Homo sapiens: one gene and its partners. The protein of the gene in region 1 purifies or fractionates together with the protein of each later gene. This does not show direct contact. Each region holds a gene or a part of one and is shown in the gene's direction. Other genes may lie near its edges.

The links.
Region 2: the proteins of IRAK2 (region 1) and FASTKD5 purify together in Homo sapiens (affinity purification with mass spectrometry; one large-scale study listed by BioGRID and IntAct). This does not show direct contact.
Region 3: the proteins of IRAK2 (region 1) and RNF152 purify together in Homo sapiens (affinity purification with western blotting, with the first as the bait; one study listed by BioGRID). This does not show direct contact.
Region 4: the proteins of IRAK2 (region 1) and IQSEC1 purify together in Homo sapiens (affinity purification with mass spectrometry; one large-scale study listed by BioGRID and IntAct). This does not show direct contact.
Region 5: the proteins of IRAK2 (region 1) and SUB1 purify together in Homo sapiens (affinity purification with mass spectrometry; one large-scale study listed by BioGRID and IntAct). This does not show direct contact.
Region 6: the proteins of IRAK2 (region 1) and ZC3H12C purify together in Homo sapiens (affinity purification with mass spectrometry; one large-scale study listed by BioGRID and IntAct). This does not show direct contact.

Annotation. Positions count from the first base shown.
Region 1 is NC_000003.12:10,213,419-10,216,918, forward strand, and holds part of IRAK2 (interleukin-1 receptor-associated kinase-like 2), read left to right. Parts: intron 1-65; coding exon 66-130; intron 131-3,500. UniProt on the Homo sapiens protein: Binds to the IL-1 type I receptor following IL-1 engagement, triggering intracellular signaling cascades leading to transcriptional up-regulation and mRNA stabilization.
Region 2 is NC_000020.11:3,146,019-3,149,865, reverse strand, and holds the end of FASTKD5 (FAST kinase domain-containing protein 5, mitochondrial), read left to right. Parts: intron 1-605; 5' UTR 606-795; coding exon 796-3,090; 3' UTR 3,091-3,347; downstream 3,348-3,847. UniProt on the Homo sapiens protein: Plays an important role in the processing of non-canonical mitochondrial mRNA precursors.
Region 3 is NC_000018.10:61,813,008-61,816,507, reverse strand, and holds part of RNF152 (E3 ubiquitin-protein ligase RNF152), read left to right. Parts: 5' UTR 1-44; coding exon 45-656; 3' UTR 657-3,500. UniProt on the Homo sapiens protein: E3 ubiquitin-protein ligase that acts as a negative regulator of mTORC1 signaling by mediating ubiquitination of RagA/RRAGA and RHEB.
Region 4 is NC_000003.12:12,896,543-12,899,486, reverse strand, and holds the end of IQSEC1 (IQ motif and SEC7 domain-containing protein 1), read left to right. Parts: 3' UTR 1-52; coding exon of another isoform or gene 53-97; 3' UTR 98-2,444; downstream 2,445-2,944. UniProt on the Homo sapiens protein: Guanine nucleotide exchange factor for ARF1 and ARF6. Guanine nucleotide exchange factor activity is enhanced by lipid binding. Accelerates GTP binding by ARFs of all three classes.
Region 5 is NC_000005.10:32,592,057-32,595,556, forward strand, and holds part of SUB1 (activated RNA polymerase II transcriptional coactivator p15), read left to right. Parts: intron 1-3,500.
Region 6 is NC_000011.10:110,134,892-110,138,391, forward strand, and holds part of ZC3H12C (probable ribonuclease ZC3H12C), read left to right. Parts: intron 1-1,771; coding exon 1,772-2,523; intron 2,524-3,500. UniProt on the Homo sapiens protein: May function as RNase and regulate the levels of target RNA species.

The DNA of each region.
Region 1 (3,500 bases):
TCTAGTGGGGGTGGAGGCTGCAGGGGTGGGGCGGGATCTTCATGTTCTGATGTCTTTCTCTACAGACAGCCTGTTCAAGTCCAGGATCAATCGAAAGATTCTTCCAGGCAGAGTTGCAGATTTGTCTTAGGTAAGCCTCCCCTTTGTTTAGTAATAATGATAGCTAACCTTTATATAGTGCTTCCTGTGTGCCCAGTCATGTTTTAAGCACTCTATTATATATAAACTCATTTAGTCCTTACAAGAACCCTATAAATGTAGCTACTATTATCACATTATTTTACAGATGGGTAAATTGAGGCACAGAGGGGTTAAATGTCTCATCCAAGGTCACACAGCTAATGAGTGGCAGAGCCAGGATTTGGATCTACCTGGTTTGGCTCCAGAGTCCATTCTTCTCCTGTGTAGCAATTCTATGTGTAGATTAGAATTATAAAGGAAACTTGGCTTACTCCAACTCCTTCCTTCCACATGGGAATAAATCTTCTCTCCTTTTTTTTTTTCTTTTCTTTTCTTTTTTTGTTTTTTGAGACAGAGTCTTGCTCTGTCTCCCAGGCTGGAGTGCAGTGGCGTGATCTCGGCTCACTGCAATCTCTGCCTACCAGGTTCAGGTGATTCTCGTGCCTTAGCCTCCCGAGTAGCTGGGATTACAGGCGTGCGCCACCAGGCCCGGCTAATTTTCATATTTTTAGTAGAGACGGGGTTTTGACATGTTGGCCAGGATGGTCTCAAATTCCTGACCTCAAGTGATCTTTCTGCTTTGGCTTCCTAAAGTGCTGGGATTACAGGCGTGAGCCACCGTGCCTGACTTTTTTTTCTTTTTTAAGAGCTAGGGTCTTGCTCTATTGCCCAGGCTGGAATGGCCTTGGAATGATTGTAGATCACTGCAGCTTTGAACTCATGGGCTGGTGATCCTCCCACCTCAGCCTCTGAGAAGCTGGGACTACAGGTGTGCGCCCAGCTCATTTTTTGCTTTTTTTTTTTTTTTTTTTTGTAGAGATAGGGTCTTGCTATGTTGACCAGGCTGGTGTTGAGCTCCCGGGCTCAAGTGATCCTCCTGCCTTGACCTCCCAAGATGTTGGGATTATAGGTGTGAGCCACTGTGCCCTGCCATGTGTGTGCTTTTTTTTTTTTTAATTATTTTTCATCTGAAACACTTGTGCCTTATATTGTAGGGTATTTTAAGAAATAAAGAAAATTGAGTATCTGTTCATTCTGTAACCAGTGTTAAAAAATAAAGAAAATTGACCAGGTATGGTGGTTTATGCCTGTAATCCTAGAACTTTGATGCTGAGGCAAGAGGATTCCTTGAGCCAAGGAGTTTGAGACCAGCTTGGGCAACATAGCGAGACCCTGTCTCAACTGAAAAAAATATATATACAAAAACTTTTTTTGGCTGGGCATGGTGGCTCGCACCTATAATCCCAGCACTTTGGGAGGCTGAGGCGAGTGGATCACTTAAGTCCAGGAGTTCAAGATCAGCTGGGCAACATGGCAAAACCCCGTCTCTACAAAAAATACAAAAATTAGCTGGGTGTGGTGGTGTATGCCTGCAGTCCCAGCTACTCAGGAGGCTGATGGGAGGATCACTTGAGCCCAGGAGGCAGAAGTTGCAGTGAGCCGAGATCATGACACTACACTCCAGCCGGGGCAACAAAGTGAGTCTCTGTCTCAAAAATAAATAAAGGCCAGGCATGGTGGCTCACACCTGTAATGCCAGCACTTTGGGAGGCCGAGGTGGGCAGATCAGTTGAGGTCAGGAGTTTGAGACCAGCCTGGCCAACATGGCGAAACCTCATCTCTACTAAAAAAAATTCATACAAAAATCAGCCTGGTGTGTTGGCATGCACCTGTAGTCCCAGCTACTCAGGAGGCTGAGGCATGAGAATCACTTGAGCCCAGAAAGTGGAGGTTGCAGTGAGCCCAGATCGCACCACTGCACTCCAGCCTGGGCAATAGAGTGAGACTCTGTCTCAAAAAAAAAAAAAAAAAAAAATTAATTAATTAATTAAAAAGTAAAACAAATTTAAAAAGGAATAAAGAAAATTATAAATAAGAAAATAGAAACTTTTTCACAGCACCTATAAATAAGCACTACTGTTTTAATATTTTGATATATTTTCATTTTTAATTGTTAAAACTTTTTTTGTAGAGACACGATCTCACTATGTTGCCCAGGTTGGTTTTGAACTCCCTGGCTCAAGTGATCCTCCTGCTTTGGCCTCCAAAAGTGTTGGGATTTTAGATGTGAGCCACTGTGCTGGGCCCATATTTTGATATGTTTTCTTTAATGCTTTCTCTATTCATACATGTATATGAATACTCACATGTGTACACACACACACACACACACACAGATACACACACACACATACATCTAATAAAAACTGGAAGTATGATTCCCTTTCCACTTTGGCTTAGTGCTTTCATGGAGTCGGCAGTCACTCCTTCATTCATTGATTCAGAAAATGTGGGTAGTTAAGCCCTTTTCTAGGCTCTAGGGAGTGTACGCCAGAAGCATACAGAGCCCCTGCCTTGGGGAGGTTTATGGTCCAGTGGGGAGACTGACATGTAAATAACTCTAATAAGTATGCAAAAGCGAGTAATAGGATGGCTTGCGGGAAGCAGAGGAGGGCGGAGAGATAAGGCAGGAGGCCATTTACAGCAGTCTTGGGGAGGCTGAATCAGAGCCTGACCCAATCCAAGTGACCCAAGGCAGAGGAGAGGGGAATGAAGGGACATTTTAAAAGTTATTTGTGGCAGTGAATGGTGACTGATTTGATACGGGAGATAAGAAGGTTTCTAGGAAACTGGGTGGGTGGTGATGTGCCTTTCTGGGATAATAAATATGGGTGAAGAAGCAGGTTTGGGACTTGTTGAGGCTAGGATGATGTTGACCTGAGCATCAGGATGCAAATTGACATTCAGGTCTGGAGCTTAGGATGGGGCTGGAGATAAGAGATTTGGGAATATTCCTTATAGCAATGGGAGGTTCCTGGAGGAGCAACATACAAAACAAGATGAGGAGTCCAGCTGGCAGAAAGAGGAAGGCAAAGGAGGAGGGTCTTAGTGAAAAGGGCCAGGAAAGAGTGGTCAGAGAGGTAGGAGGAAAGTCAGGAGGGAATGGTGACTGAGAACCAGCAGAAGAGGATTTCAGGAAAGAACCCCAGTCCTAGAGTCAGGCAGGTGTGGGATCTGGTCCTGGCTTTACTGCTTTCTAGTTTGTGACCTTGGGCAAGTCCCTTAACCTCTCAGTCTCCGTTTCTGGAGATGGGGCAGTTGAGATGTCATGTGTTGCAGAGCAGTAAAGCAGGATGAGGACCACCATACTCGTTGAAGGCAGACAGTTTTCATCTTTCCACCCTGGGGCCAGGCCCTTAGGGGTCAGAGTATGTGGTACCTGGGAGGTTATTGGTGGCGTTGGAGGAGGAGAGGGCAGAAGAGGGGTGGGACATGAGGAAGTAGATCATTCTTTCCGTCTGACTCCTCACACCTGCACT
Region 2 (3,847 bases), on another chromosome or scaffold:
TTGTATTTTTAATAGAGACGGGATTTCGCCTTGTTGGCCAGGCTGGTCTTGAACTCCTGACCTCAAGTGATCTGCCTGCCTCGGCCTCCCAAAGTGCTGGCATTACAGGCATGAGCCACCCACACCCAGCCAACTAATTATCTTTTATACCAGATCCCACTTTTTACTTAGTGCTGTTAGCATAGCAGTTTTTATAAACATTCTTCAGGTAGGACCTGTTTGCCTTGATATCAAAGAGATGGAAGGAGTTGCTCACTTTTGTTCCCAGCCTTCTTTCTAGAAATCTGCCTTCCTTCTTCCTATCAAATGTTAGCGGAGCACCGTCTCTTCTTTAGCCGTCACTGCTTGCCTTGTACAGTGAAGGAAGTCTGGTGAGCAGCAGTCCAGGAACTGCCCACGGGTACCCTGGGTTGGGGGTTTTCCTAGGCCTTTACACAGACCGCAGAATTTATCCTTGATATATGCTGTCATGTGGTTTGGGCATTTACTAGCATTGAACTTATTTGAGTAGACAGCAGTGTAGTTTCAACCTGTTTTTTATAATGTGTAAATTTGGATGCTTTTATAGGTAGAAGCCACTCATTCTTCATCTACCCTTTTTTCAGTATCTGGCACCAATTCTGACCCAGTCATTTGTGATCCCTGGCTCTTGTGATATGCTGAAGATTTCCAGGCAGTTTTTGTGGAACACCTCCCCGTCCAGCTCTAATCAAGCACCATATAAACAAGAAATTGCCTGGTCAAATCTGTGAGGACTGTATTCTGACTGCCAAAGAGATCAATACTGACACCAGAATGGCAGCTACTCTCAAGTCATTAAAACTTGTAAGATACCGAGCATTTTGCAGTCCTTCTGCCTTTGGTGCAGTCCGAAGTGTGTCATACTGGAATGTGAGCAGCACACAGCATGGGGGACAGGACCCTCCAGAACACATTAGCCTCTGCCATTCTGCCAAAAAAGTTAAGAACATATGTAGCACCTTCTCTTCTCGGAGAATCCTGACAACCAGCAGTGCCCACCCAGGTTTGGAATTCAGCAAGACTTCTTCCTCTAAGGCCAGTACATTGCAGCTGGGCTCACCCAGGGCCACAGGAGTTGATGAAGAGGACGTAGAAGTGTTTGATTCCTTTGAAAACATGCGAGTTTTCCTACAGCTAAGACCAGAATACCGTGTTCACAGCTATAATGCATCTGAGACTTCTCAGCTCCTGTCTGTTTCAGAAGGTGAACTAATTTTGCACAAAGTCAGAGTTAATCAAAATAATCTCCAGGCTCAAGTCATTGTTGATTATTTGTGTAAGCTGAGCTCTTTGCCTGCAGAGCAGCATCCTGTCTTGCTGGGCAGTACCAGCTTTGCTCTGCTCTGCCAGCTGAGTGTGAAGAAGATACAGCTCTTTGATACCCAAGATCTGATCAATGTTTTGAAAGCTTTTGTCATTTTAGGAATCCCTCACTCCCATTCAATGCTAGATGTGTATGAGACCAAGTGTTGCCATCAGGTATGGGAGATGAATATGGATCAGCTCCTTTTGGTGGCTGATCTCTGGAGGTACTTAGGCCGCAAAGTACCTAGGTTTTTAAACATTTTTTCTAGTTATCTTAATTTGCACTGGAAGGATCTATCCTTGTCTCAGCTAGTTCACTTAATTTATGTTATAGGTGAAAATCGTCAGGTATCCCAGGACCTAATGCAAAAATTGGAATCATTGATCCTTAAATATATAGATTTGATCAATTTGGAGGAGGTTGGTACCATCTGTTTGGGGTTCTTTAAATCAAGTACTAATCTCTCTGAATTTGTCATGCGGAAAATTGGAGACTTGGCTTGTGCTAACATTCAGCATCTGAGTAGTCGCTCCTTAGTGAATATTGTTAAAATGTTCCGTTTCACTCACGTGGATCACATCAATTTCATGAAGCAGATTGGAGAGATAGCTCCTCAGCGAATTCCTTCCCTGGGAGTTCAAGGTGTCATGCACCTGACTCTTTACTGCTCGGCCTTACGCTTCCTGAATGAAGGAGTAATGAATGCAGTGGCTGCGTCTTTGCCTCCTAGAGTGGCACACTGTCGAAGTAAAGATGTTGCCAAGATTCTGTGGTCATTTGGAACTCTGAATTATAAGCCACCCAATGCAGAAGAATTTTACTCCAGCCTGATAAGTGAGATTCACAGAAAGATGCCTGAATTCAACCAGTACCCAGAACACCTGCCCACCTGCCTGCTGGGCCTGGCATTTTTGGAGTACTTTCCAGTAGAGTTAATTGATTTCGCTCTCAGTCCAGGGTTTGTCAGGTTAGCTCAGGAGAGAACTAAGTTTGACCTCCTTAAGGAACTATATACCCTCGATGGTACAGTTGGCATTGAGTGTCCAGATTACAGAGGCAATCGTCTTAGTACTCACCTTCAGCAAGAGGGGTCTGAATTGCTGTGGTATTTAGCAGAGAAGGATATGAATTCAAAGCCTGAATTCTTAGAAACTGTCTTTTTACTGGAGACCATGCTGGGGGGGCCCCAGTACGTCAAGCACCATATGATTTTGCCTCATACCCGATCTTCTGACTTAGAGGTCCAGCTTGATGTTAACCTGAAGCCATTACCATTTAATAGAGAAGCCACGCCGGCTGAAAATGTAGCCAAATTAAGGCTTGAGCATGTGGGAGTCAGCCTTACAGATGATTTGATGAATAAGTTACTAAAAGGGAAAGCAAGAGGACATTTCCAGGGCAAAACTGAGTCAGAGCCTGGGCAGCAGCCCATGGAGTTGGAGAATAAGGCAGCTGTACCTCTGGGGGGCTTCCTTTGCAATGTAGCAGATAAATCAGGGGCCATGGAGATGGCTGGCCTGTGCCCCGCAGCCTGCATGCAGACCCCAAGAATGAAGCTGGCTGTTCAGTTCACAAACAGGAACCAGTATTGCTATGGCTCCAGGGATCTCCTTGGACTGCACAATATGAAGAGGCGGCAGCTGGCTCGGCTTGGCTACCGTGTGGTAGAGTTATCCTACTGGGAATGGCTCCCACTACTGAAACGAACTCGCTTAGAAAAGTTGGCGTTTCTTCATGAGAAAGTATTCACCTCTGCTCTCTGAAGGGCATTTAGGGGCATTTCTATGGCAAAGCTATAGGTGTATACTGTACCAGGTGTTGCAAAATGATTATAAAAGCCAGAATGTAAGTTTGGCGATAAAATAGTGTGTTGAGGAGACTTAATTGTATCCAAGGCAGGTTAGAGCTAGTGTATGTTACTGTGAATTGTAATGTAGTTGGATTGTACAAATTACTGCAAATGTATACATGTTACTCTTAGTAAATAATAAACATCTTAATATGTCCTACGGTCAAGTAAGTCCTTGTTGGATTTTTCTTTCTGTTTACCAGCCTTATGTCACAGAGTTTTTAGAATAAAAGTATAGTCAGACATTATATAAAGCCAATTTTTAAAAATTTTATTCTTTTCTGGAGACCCTCCCCCCACCCTTACAGATTTTTTTTTTTTTTAAAGCCAGTTTTTTTGTTTGTTTTTTGAGATGGAGTCTCGCTCTGTCACCCAGGCTGGAATGCAGTGGCACAATCTCAGCTCACTGCAACCTCCGCCTCCCAGATTCAAACAATTCTCCTGCCTCATCCTCCCGAGTAGCTGAGACTACAGGCGCGTATCACTACACCTGGATAATTTTTGTCTTTTTAGCAGAAACGGGGTTTCTCCATGTTGACCAGGCTGGTCTTGAACTCCTGACTTCCGGTGATCCGCCTGCCTTGGCCTCCCAAATGCTGGGATTACAGGTGTGAGCCACCGCGTCTGGCCTTTTTTTTTTTTTTGAGACGGAGTCTCCCTCGGTTGCCCAG
Region 3 (3,500 bases), on another chromosome or scaffold:
CTTCCCCTTCACCTTGGCCTTGCCCTTCCTGCTCACGGTCCACCATGGAGACGCTGTCCCAGGACTCTCTGCTGGAATGTCAGATCTGTTTCAATTACTACAGCCCCCGGCGCAGGCCCAAGTTGCTGGACTGCAAGCACACCTGCTGTTCAGTGTGCCTGCAGCAGATGAGGACCAGCCAGAAGGATGTGCGGTGCCCCTGGTGCCGCGGTGTCACCAAGCTGCCTCCCGGCTTCTCCGTGTCGCAGCTCCCGGACGACCCGGAGGTCCTGGCTGTCATCGCCATTCCACACACTTCCGAACACACCCCGGTCTTCATCAAACTTCCCAGCAATGGGTGCTACATGCTGCCCCTGCCCATCTCCAAGGAGCGTGCGCTGCTGCCCGGAGACATGGGCTGCCGCCTGCTGCCCGGGAGCCAGCAGAAGTCCGTCACCGTGGTGACCATCCCTGCTGAACAGCAGCCTCTGCAAGGTGGGGCTCCCCAGGAGGCGGTGGAGGAGGAGCAGGACAGGCGGGGCGTGGTGAAAAGCTCCACCTGGTCGGGGGTGTGCACTGTCATCTTGGTGGCTTGCGTCTTGGTCTTCCTCCTCGGCATCGTGCTTCACAACATGTCTTGCATTTCTAAGCGCTTCACTGTGATATCCTGTGGCTGAAGAGGGCTGCAGGGAAGTCTCTTGTGGGTGCCAACTTAGGGGTTGAGCAGGTTGATGATGAGATCCCAGTGAGAAGATGGGGGGCAACACTGACCATTTGGTGCTGAGCGCTGGCCTCTGGGTTGCCTCTTGATTACCCCAAGACAGACACAAAGGGCAGAAGGTGCGGTCTCAACAAGATACCAGGTGAATTGTTCTGAGTGTTGATGGCAACAGCTTGGAAGATGATTGCATGCATCCTCATAATCATGTATTCAATGGACTGTAATTTATGATTTTTCAAAATCATGTTACAAGATAGACATATTCTACTTAGACGTTAAACTGTACAAGTGCGTACAATGTGACCTTCTCTAAATGCGGTAGATTCAAACAAAGATGCTCTGTAGACAAGTAGAATTAAACCTGCGAATCCGTGTAAAAATTCAGTGAAGACATGCACTGCTGGCTTCTTTATTTTTTTTTTCTTTTTATTGAAACCCAGTCTTCATTTAGTTGCTAAGGCTTTTAATACATTTTGAATGGCACCAAAACAAAATAAGTCAAAATGGACAGTCATTTTATTTGGAGGAAATATTTGAACAAGTGTCTCCAATGTGTTGTGTTTTGTCATGAACCTTCATTTTCTTCACTTGTAATTAGAGCTTGCTACGTGTTTATGGAACTGAAAGCTCAACAGGGGAGCAATAAACCGAGAAATCATGAGAAATGTCTAATCCCATGGGAAAACCTGTATGCCGATTTTCCTCAAGCCATCTCACAAAATAAGAATTTCAAATGTAAATATTGTGTATTTGTGTGTGTATGTGTGTGTGTCTAATTTGATTTACCTCAGGTGTTTGAGTCTTTGCTGAAGAATCCTGGGATGAAGACTTCATTGGGCATGAATGAGTCAAGTCTCTGAAGCGGTGGCCACTTCTTGGACATCTTGACCCAGCGAGTGGTCTCCTACACGTCACCTGCAACACTCGCTCCTCTTCTGTGTATTTAAGTCCTGCATTTTGTAAGAGGCAAATGGAGAGTAACAGAAGAGTGTCTTTTCTCCTGGTTTTGGAGTCTTGCACTGGCCATGAGTGTTGTGACTGATGGTCAACCCAGGCGGGCATTTTAATAAATGGCCTGTGATTCTTTTTTGAAAGATGCTCTTCCACAAGAGTTAAGCCAGTTAGAATTCCTGTTTCCTCTTGTTGATATGAGAGAAGATCTCCTGTATTTTAACACGTTTTTACCAAGAAAGGTGGCAAGGTAAACTAACAGCTCAAATTCCCAATATAAGTGGACCAGTTCCTCATAAACTGTCAAATGTTCTTAAATGTGTAATGATCTATAGATGCTCATGAAGAAAGATCTGCTACAAGTACGTGATAAATTCCTATCCCTGGGTGCATGTGCATTCAGAAATAGCTGTGAGCTTTACAGCTCTCATCTAACTTCTTTTATGGAATTCATGAAGCAAGTGGTATGTGACAAGGACTCCACTTATAAATATAACTGTTTTTATGTTCCACTGAATCCCTGAAAATGGTGAGGAGGGTGGGGGGAAGTGAAGGAAAGACAAGCAGGGCTAATTCCAAAAAGCAAGGCTAGAAAATAGCCCTGTGAGGTCAAGACAATTTAATTTATTTACATGCTGTCTGTTATCTTCAAGCAGCACAAAATATGCATATAAAAGTGATGGAATTAATGTGAAATAAAACAAAAATATAATGGCTAGAATACAAAGCTAATACTGCTAATTGGCATGAGAATTCAACATAAAATTGTGAGCTCTGATTTTTCAAATTGATCATAAAACCTTTAGGAAATGTATTTGAAAGCTCAAAATAGAAATTAGGTTAAAATGCCATTTTATTGTGTAAGCTCTTGGGCATTATACAACAAATAATCTAGGATTTATTTGGTATTAATAATTTAGGTGTCATATTAGCTGAATACTATCCTCTATTACATAACATAATATACTGTTGGGTTAGTGTCAATTTCTCAAACTCTCCCAGGCTGCCATAATGCATGTCTGACCTAATTTCTATTTCTCTTGGAGGAAAATACACACACACACACACCACAGAAGTGTTGCATTAAGAATGCTACATTTCGAATAGACTTTGCCCTTGCAATTTTAAGCTATGCCATATTCAGATTAATTTTGTGAGTGATATCTGCATATGTTTCTGTACAGTGTGAAATGACTGACCCTGTAGTATAGTACGTGATAGAGTTCTACTTGTTAAAGTAGGTTAGATATAGACACTAATGTGTGTGATGATAGTGTCCTGTGTTTCTTAGTGCAAATCTGTAGAGTAAAAATGTCCATAGAACTTTTACTTAAAAACAATCCCATGCTAGAGTTGCCATTAAGCAGTGCAAAATTAATCGGCTGTATGGTAGATTCTTGACCTTAAATTTAACAACAACAACCAAAATCAGATTTTTTTTGTGAGTCTTACTGACCTAAGAAACATTGTTTAAATTGTTTAAATGGATCTGCTTGCAGTTATTTGTGTACCTGTTTGTTGGGGTGTGCATTCTTGTGTATGTGTGTGTGTGTGTGTGTGTGTGTGTGTGTGTGTGTGAGAGAGAGAGAGAGAGAGAGAATCTCAGTCTCCCAGATAGAATTTTATAGGCTTAATGATGTTTTAATGTTGCTTGGCATCCCATTGCTCTGGCCTCTTCTGGCATTTACCAATGACCCTTAACAAACACATCTACCCATGTGACCAAAGTCCACTGACACAAGAGGCCAGGATTCATACTTGCACATTAATGAAAAGTCACAACTGGAAAGCACAGAAAGAGCTGAAAGCAGCCTCCGGTGGCTTCATTTTGTAGATGAGTCCGTTTTGT
Region 4 (2,944 bases), 2.7 Mb from region 1:
ACCTGCACGCGGCAGGTCTGTGCCCGAGTCACCCACGGGCCATACTTTGTAGTTTCAGCCTTTCGAGCCACTGCAGCCGTCAGTGCTGTGCTCCTAAGCCATGGGACCCGAGGACTGCCCCCCGGCGCCTGCCCAGGCGGAGGCCCTTTCAGAAAGGGCGAAGCTCACGCCTGACTCTGCGGGCCGCGGGGCCGCGTTCCCAGTGGACAGCGTGGTGAGCCGTGGCCGGACGGCAGGAGGAGAGGGGAGCCCCCTCTGGCTGTGTGTCACCTTGGCTGGCTGGCTGGCCAGGGTTTTGCCGATTTCCCTCCTCACATCCCTCCCACCCTCGGTCATATCATTGAGATCACCGTACCAGCAAATCTGCAAACCAAGCACTTTGTTAATCTCCAGAGAGAGCAAATACAGCAATCTAGAGTTTAGCCTTTTTAAAAATGTGACTTTAACCCGCCCACCTGTGTCCTCCCATTGGCGTGGCATTTCTTTGGTGTCTGCTCAGAAAGAAACAGCATGGGACCGTGTGATTGGGTCCAGGCTGGGCTGTCAGGGAAGCGCCCTGGTGTCTCCGACTCATCAATTCTCGGGTCTTTTTTAAAAGCCAGGCTCCCCAAAGCACTCTGTCTCGCAATTTTGAGGAGGCTGTTCCGACCTGGAAGCGTTAAACTGCTGCATGTCATCTGGCGTCAGCTGTGAGGCTGCGCTCTGCGTGTTGTGCGTTTGCAAAATGTATTGGCGTGACTGTAAACACATCGTTGAAGTAAAGCGATTACATATTGAGTATGTCAGCTTTTCTCACCCTCTTCTGTGCTGGGAGGAGAGTCTAACTGTAACCTTTAGGTTGTTCCAGAAAAGATTCAGGCCGTTTGGCACAGAATTGCTCTTTCTGAAGGGTAGCAGTAATGAATAGGAACAGACAGAAAACCCCAGGAGGGGCTTTCAGGAAACTCTCCCTCTCCATCGCCATCCTGCAAGCTCCACAGCCTCGGGCTGCCAGCCTGTGGCACTGTCCTCGGTGTGTCCTGGAGCTGTGCTGGGCAGCAGGGCCTCGCGTAAGGAACTGCTGGAACCCACTGAGCCCTTCCCGGGGTTTCCCGCCGCACTCAGTGTGTTCCTTCAGGCTAGTGAGGTTTCATTCTGTTTTATTTGCAAGCTTATCAAAAGTTTGTGGAAGATACATTGTTGGGTTCCAGAGGCTGGAGTCATGCTGCCCACATCTTGTTTGGGAAAGCAAAAGCTCCCAGTGAGCTGGTGTCCCCGTGTGTCTTTCATGGGACTGTCCCCTTTAGAGATCCCACCTGTCAGAGCCACAGCTTCGGGGTCCTGTCATCACATCCCCTGGGAGGGGAGGCAGGAGGAGGCCGAGGGCCCCAGGATGTCTGCCTGGTCCCTTCTCACTGTGAGGACGCCCTTGGCACACCTTTCTCAAGTCACACAAATTACTGCAGTTACATACAGAATTGCTGACAGGAGCAGGAGACGCTGAGGGAAACAGCTGGCAATGTGACAAAAGTCTTTTCTGGGACAACAATCAAATCATGTATTTGTATTTTTTTAAGTTTACCAATGAATTGTACAACAATGTAAAAATAAAGTTCATCCTAATATGCTGTGCACATCTTGCTTAAAAATGTCTTCAGCACCCAGTGCAGTGATCTTTCCCTCACACACTGCATGCAGCAGGAGCCTCTTGTTTTTCTTAATGAGCTGAAAAGACAGCAGATGTTCACAGCTGATGCTGGGTGTTGACTCAGCGCCACGGGAAGCTCTGTGCCCGCAGGTAAGCACGCACAGTCTTACAGTTCTCCTTGTAAAATATCATCACCCTTCCTGCCTGAGAAACGAGTACATTTGTATTTTATGTAACAACAATAGTCAAGGCAGCATTGCAACACTGAGCAGGGTGAGGTGGGGGTGCTGAGCACAGGACAAGAGGGAGGAGGCCTGCCCTCCATTCAGATGCATCTGCATCGCCCTTCTGTGTGCAGTCACATCGAGACTGCACACAGCATGCATCTCCTCTTGGAAAATATCTTTTGCCTCCGAGTTGTTTTAAGCAATTAGAATCAGGTCCTGAATCCCCAGACTGTTCAGAGACTTCAAGGGACACCTCCCTCACAAGAAGCCTGGCACCCCCACTGTGTACCTTTGAGAGGAAAGGAGTGCGTTTGTTTTCATCTGCATTCTGTTTGTCAGTGGCAACAGACTCTATCAATGTAAAACCATGGTTGTGATCATGTGGGGAAATCAAATAAATCCTTTGAAACTCTCGGATTCTCACTTTTTCTGAAAAGTCCAGAAGTTGCCCTGTTGGCCAGACCCAGATCTCCAGCTGATGAGTTTCCCCATTACTTGTTGTGACTCTGGGCACTCACTTTCCTTGAAGACATTGGACTGACTGAGGACACTGATACAAAATTTAAAATAAAGGGACACATCACAACCAATAGAAGGTTTCAAAGGTATTTATAATTTCTAGCAACTTTCAACAAGTGATGGTCCTTTCATGGAGTTAGAGGGGATGAATTCTATTAAGCGTTGAGGTACACTGATTATGACTTAGGGAAAAAAATACCCAGTGGCCCAGTCCCCAGTAAAGATGGATGATGACAGGAGTTCAGAGCAGCCTGCGTTTCCATGTTGGCTCATATCATGTACAAAAGCCAAGATGGTAAAGTCATTCTCCTGGAAGGAAGGGGCCTGTGAGGATGTAATTGGCTTCTGCGATTTCTCCTTTCCTGGCCAAACATAATTCCTGAGAACACCACTTTAAACTTTCAGTGCATGGGATAAAAGGAACTGGCAGATCTAACTAGTGGAAAACCAAACAAAAAAAAGTTAATTTTGGTGACCAAAATGAACTCTGGCCCTCCCTCCGTACAGCACATTCTGATTGAAAGATGTTCTCACAGGGGCCCCCTCTTCCAGTCTCATTCATAGCCACTAC
Region 5 (3,500 bases), on another chromosome or scaffold:
TAAAAGTACTATGATCTGATAATTGCCTAATATGTATGTTACAATCTTCTTAACTAGGGACATTTATTAAAATAGAACAAACTAGTAAAAGTATTTTGTACGATGCTGGATTATTGTTAAAGTCTCTAAAGTCTAGTTTTGCTGTATTTAAACCAATGCAAATTTAATTGAGAACTGCACATTTTGAAAGCAACTTGGAGGAGGCAGGTCAAGTGTTGGGACAGTAAAGTATGAATAGATTATTATGGGACAGGAAGCAGCAATGTGACATGCCTAATTTTGGCCTGATGAGCAACAGAAAAGGGGAATGGGTTGAATAGATAAAGTGAAGGAAGTTCATTAGAGGGACTTGATGAAATCACCTAGAGAGGACTCGTATAGCTTTTTCTCTTGGGTTTCCTGTCTTGTTTTAGGGAGACTTGACACTGGCATCTTTGTACAAGAAGGATTTGTGAGGAAGGGATGTTGGGGAATAAATGAATGCAGGTGAGATTGCTTAGGTAATTGTAGGCTTTAATCTGTATGTGAGGTGATAAGGGCTTAGATGGTTTTTCCTAAAGAAGAAATTATGCCAATTACAAGATACAGGTTAGGAAGAATGGACCAGAGGAATTAGGCAGTCAGTGAAGATGTGGACTTGATTGTGGATGTGATTGAAAAAAAAAATGGTGTTGCTTCTGTAGCACCTGAAGGGCTTAGTTGGGAAATGTTCATGTGGGATTATCAGCATGGTTGACTAAAGCTGCCTACTGAAGTATTAAACAGAGGAAGAACAGGAAGCAGATGAGGGGATGTCTTGGGTTATATTCAGATAGAGAATGGAAGGAAAAAGAGGATGTAGGTTAAGAGAGAGGGTGAAGGAAAATTAGAAGAGTGCAGTAATGGGAGCAAGAAAAGGATGAGTGTTTCCAGGAGCTATAAGTATTAGTTGAAACCAAAAAGTTGGGTGGAACGAGACTACAATTTTTTTTTTGAGACAGGGTCTCTGCTCTGTCACCCAGGCTGGAGTGCAGTGGTGTGATCTCTGCTCACTGCAACTTCCGCTTCCTGGGCTCAAATGATCCTCCTGCCTCAGCCTCCTGAGTAACTGGGACTACAGGCAATGCTCCATGACGCCTGGCAAATTTTCTTTGTTGTTGGTAGAAACAGTATTGCCCAGGCTGGTCTTGAACTCCTGAGCTCAAGTGATGCGCCCACCTTGGCTTCTGAAAGTGCTGGGATTACAGGCGTGAGCCACCGTGACTGGCCAAGACTGTAGACATTTATATGACTAGAAAGTAAGGCTAACACATGTATATTTTGACCTGTTGATAACTTTGAAAGGTGGAGTGCCAAGATTAAGGTGAGAATGGGAAAATTTAAGTTTTTTTTTTCCTATTGCTTATTTTTGCCTTGTTATACTTCTAGGTAAAAAAGATAGACAAAGTGCAGATGAACTATTTAGTTCAGAACACACATTTTAGAGATTCTGTTCTGTTAAGAGGAGTTTTGTGAAAACTAGATCTAATTTTAGGAATTTTCTCACCAGAAAAACGGAGCTTCATTTCTTAAACCCTCATCTGGAAAGATTCCTAAGCCTCCTAAGGCTGACATTGCACCTTTTGAAAGCCTGCCTCTAGGAGGAACATAGGTCATCTTTTCTTTTTTTTTTTTTTGAGACGGAGTCTCGCTCTGTCACCAGGCTGGAGTGCAGTAGCACGAATCTCGGCTCACTGCAACCTCCGCCTCCTGGGTTCAAGAGATTCTCCTGCCTCAGTCTCCTGAGTAGCTGGGACTACAGGCATGCGCCACCACCCCCAGCCAATTTTTGTATTTTTAGTAGAGACGGGATTTCACCTGGTTGGCCAGGATGGTCTCGATCTCTTGACCTCGCCATCTGCCTGCCTTGGCCTCCCAAAGTGCTGGGATTACAGGTGTGAGCCACGGCGCCCAGCCTAGGCCTTATTTTCAGAGTGGCTTTCATGGATCTAGTAGTGTAGGCATTATGAAATAATATGATACTTAATTTCATTGCCATTACAGCTTGATGTACATCAAACATCAATACATAAGCAGTTCTCTAAATGTATTAAAGAGTTGTACCAAAGAAAAATCAATAGACTTATCTTTTAAAGTCTGAAGTGATTGGGGCAGAATCGTGACTAGAGAGAAGATACTAGAGATGCTTACTTCCTGGTTCCTTCAGCTCTGATTTTGAAGAACTTTCTTCCATAGGGATGTAGTCTACCTGAGGTGACATCTGTGATAGTAAAGAGACTGGAGAATTATCTCATAATTATTTAGTACCTGTGTCTTGAAAGGTCAGAATAGTTGAGGCAGGAAACTTTAATCCATATTTTTCTTCAGAGTTAGGCACAAAGGGTCAGTAATACTGCTTTAGTTTATTTGATGATTTAAGGATACTTGATACTTTTAAATTATTTAATTTAAAATGATTATAACTGGTCATTTTAATCTGGGGCAGGAGTCCATAGAATTGTTTTTTAATTTGAGTTTTCTTTTTTGTGTTTGAAGGAATTATTCATAACCTTTATCACAGGGGTCCCTCCTGCACAGGAGGTGAGCGGTGTGTGAGTGAACATTGCAGCCCGAGCTCTGCCTCCTGTCAGATCAGCAGCGGCATTAGATTCTCATAGGAGCGCGAACCCTATTGTGAACTGCGCATGCAAGGGATCTAGGTTGTGCGTTCCTTATTCCTTATGAGAATCTAATGCCTGATGGTGGGATAATTTTTATCCTGAAACGATCACCTTTCCCCTTCCCTACCTGCTGTGGAAAAATTGTCTTCCGTGAGACTGGTCCCTGGTGCCAAAAAGGTTAGGAACCACTGCTTTATCAGATCTTCAGAGGGGACAGGGAATCAAATTCGTATAAGAATCACAGTTCTTTATGATGTATATGCTATTTTTTGCTGCTAATCTCCAGATTTTGTGGATATAAAATATATTGTCATCTGATTTTATTTTTTTCCAATAAAATGTGATTTCAGTGATCTTTATTTTTTCTATCTTTAAGTAATATATCCCTATACTACTATCTCATCACTTGTTTAATTTTTGCTAATAAGAATTTGTCAGTTTTACTCTTTTTTTCCCCCCAAGGGAGAGGCAGCTGTTGGGCAGATTCCTTTTTTTTTTAAAAAAAAAAATGTTTTTGAGGTATAGTTTATGTCCAATAAAACGCACACATTTAAAAGCATACCTTGATAGGCTGTGGTAAATGTACACGCCTTTGTGGCCAGACCATTTTCATCACCCCAGGAAGTTCCTCTTGGCTTTACAGTCATTGCTCATGTCCTAGGTAATCACTGATCTTATTTCTACCACTATAGATTTATGTTGTCTCTTCTAGAACTTTGTATAAATGGATACATGCAGTCTATTTTTTGTGTCTGGCTTTTGCTCAGTATAATGTGTTGAGATTAGTTCTTGTTGCATATATCAGTAATTTTATTGCTGAGTAGTATTTTGTATGATAATACTACAACTTGTAAATCCATT
Region 6 (3,500 bases), on another chromosome or scaffold:
TGTTCTCTTCTCTAGTATTTACCATAGTTAATAAAATGTATTTCATTACTTGACTCTCTAATTAAAGTTTACCAGGTATGCTTTCAAATTTGTGACTTCTCAGAAAATCACTTAGCATTTTCTTTTAACATTTATATAATAGCTATTTTCTAGTGTAAATATGATGTTGAAGAGCTTTAGAAACATTTTCTCAGTTTTCTTTTTCAGGTTAGTTTTAAATAGGTGTTTTTATGGCAGTCTGAAATTCAACTATCGCTGGCTTGCTAATGCTGTATCTGCGTAGAATACCAGAATTGCCTTAACAAGTAAATCATGAGGCCAGGCGTGGTGGCTCACACCTGTAATCCCAGCATTTTGGGAGGCCAAGGCGGGCAGATCACTTGAGGTCAGGAGTTTGAGACCAGCATGGCCAACGTGGCGAAACTTTGTCTCTACTAAAAATATAAAAATTAGCCGAGCATGGTGGCACTCACCTGTAATCCCAGCTACTCAGGAGGCTGAGGCAGGAGAATCACTTGAATATGGGAGGCAGAGTTTGTAGTGAACTGAGATTACACCGCTGCACTCCAGCCTGGGCAACAGAGTGAGACTCCCGTCTCAAAAAAAAAAAAAAAAAAAAAGTAAATCCTTGATGTGGATATAGTTCTTACAATGAAGCACCAGAGAAAATAGCTTTATTTTCCTAACCCATTCCTAGTAGAGAAATAACATTTCCAATAGTCTTTAAGGAAAAATAGTAAAATGGCAAAAAACAAACCAATTTTAAATAGTAAAAGTATTCTTATATGGTGAAAAATAGGAAAAAAGATCACTTTTTAACCAAATGCAGATTAATGGCTAGTTAATCTGACATAATACAGGAGGATTTTCTGCCATAAAATTCAAGAAACTGAGATAACATTATCTAATATGCCTAATTGTTTGCTGCTAATTTTATGTGAGATATCATCTCTGCTTTCCGTAAGTGCAGATAGAATAAAACTTTTACCTTTTCCTGGAATGAAATAGACTGTTGTTTCCCTGGCACTTAATAAGGATAGCATAATGCTAGAAATTATATTGTGTTACTATGTTCCATAGTCAAAAAATCATGATTACTAGGGCAAAACCCTGTTCATCTCTTAAGAAGAATTTAACTCACTTTGTAATTATTTAATTCCCTTCTGTCTATCTTAGAATATGTGCTCTTTCATTGCAGTATCTATGTTATTTTTGAAAGTTCTTTAGATTGCTGTTAAGCTTCATCCAGATTAATAATGATTTTTCAAGTATAAGTTAATGGTTTCTTTCTATGTGGCTTTCTTTTTAAAAGAATATTTATAGATACTTATGAATTCTGTTAGAGAAAAATGTAAATTTTAACCTGTCATGCATATTAAAAACATACTTTTTGATGATATTCTATGTGTCACTCTAGAATTATAAGCCGTCCTAAAAGTAGAAAAATCTGATCCATCGAGATTGAGAAGGAGCATGATATAGTGGGAAAAGCATGGGTTTTAGAATCAGACGAAACTGGGTAAAAAAATACAGTTCTACTACTTATTTACTTTGTTGCCTTGGAGGAATTACATGGCCTTTCTAATTTATGACTTCTTCATCTGAAAAATGGCAGATGATACTCTCTTGGCAAGGGTGTTAGGAGGGAGGAGAGGATGTAGACAAAATACAAAGTATTTTGAGTAGTTGAGTAATTCTCTTCTGACTTCTCCATTGAGACAGAAATCTAGCCATAACTATGAAATTCTAAATATTTTACATTTTTCTCTAGGAATACGGGGTGCTTTGCATTCAGGAATACAGAAAAAACAGCAAAGTGGAGTCAAGTACACGTAACAACTTCATGGGCTTGAAGGATCACCTAGGGCATGACCTCGGCCACCTTTATGTGGAGAGCACTGACCCACAGTTAAGTCCAGCTGTACCTTGGTCAACAGTAGAAAACCCAAGTATGGATACCGTTAATGTGGGGAAGGATGAAAAAGAGGCGTCTGAAGAGAATGCAAGCTCTGGTGACTCTGAAGAAAACACAAATTCTGATCATGAGTCAGAACAATTGGGTAGCATTTCAGTAGAGCCAGGCTTGATAACTAAGACTCACAGACAGCTCTGCAGGTCTCCCTGTTTAGAGCCTCACATACTCAAGCGCAATGAAATTTTGCAAGACTTTAAACCTGAAGAGTCCCAGACTACATCCAAGGAAGCAAAGAAACCACCTGATGTGGTGCGAGAATACCAAACAAAACTGGAGTTTGCACTTAAGTTAGGTTATTCTGAAGAACAGGTTCAGCTTGTACTAAACAAACTTGGTACTGATGCTTTAATCAATGATATTTTGGGAGAACTTGTCAAACTTGGAAATAAAAGTGAGGCTGATCAAACGGTTAGTACAATTAACACTATAACACGGGAAACTTCTTCCCTGGAATCTCAGAGGTCTGAATCTCCAATGCAAGAGATTGTAACAGATGATGGTGAAAATCTGAGACCAATAGTTATTGATGGCAGCAATGTGGCAATGAGGTAAGTGGAAAAATCGTTACTGAAAATTACTACCAAATAATCTTTAAAAGCCTTATTTCTAATTTTGTGGCTCTTTTCCTTCTCATGGTCATTAAAGTCAACATTTTTCTGTATCCTGATGTTAACATTAGAAAACATTAGTTTTCCGTCTCTCTTCTTTCAGGGCACTCAGCCATCTTTACTTCATTTATCCCCGTATAGAGACCCATTTTTCTCAGATATGTCTCTTTTTGTCCTCATCTGGCTAAATTTCTATGGTATAAAAATTAGTGTGTGTTTCTGGTTTACTATTAATCAGTAGTTTTAAATGAATAATTTGATATGATAATATTCAACAATTTTAGAATCTAGTCAAATGGTCTATTTCTTTAGGAAGTTAAATAACCCTAATTCTTCTAGAAAATAAACTATGTATTTTATTGATTTGAGAAAAAACCAAAGCTGTAGTTTGAATTGTTTTGTAATTTGAGTTGTTTTCATTTAAGAAATTCAAATCAGAAATAATTCTTAAGGAACTGGGGGGAAAAAAAAGCAAAACTTTCAGTGATAATTTTTTTGGCTAGGCAGGGTGTCTCACACTTGTAATCCCAACACTTCGAGAGGTCAAGATGGAAGGATCATTTGAGGCCAGGAGTTTGAGACCAGCCTGAGCAACATAGGGAAACACCTCTACCTATAGCAAAATATATATATATATTTAAAATAAAATTTTAAAAGAAATTTTTTTGTGTGATTTTGATGGCTCAATATTTAAAGCACATCTAAATTCAATCAGCTTATGGGTAACTGCTCACAATTTCAGAGCGCTGTGAAGATAAAAAGATATGTGTATAAAAGCATCAGTTCTTCCTCTGGAGAGCTTAGAGTTTCATATGCAGTTTCTCAGAAGGTGATCTGATGATGCCTACCAGAGAATCATCTGAGGGACTTATGGAAAATGCAGATTCTATATCAGTGCTGTCCAAGGGAAATACAAT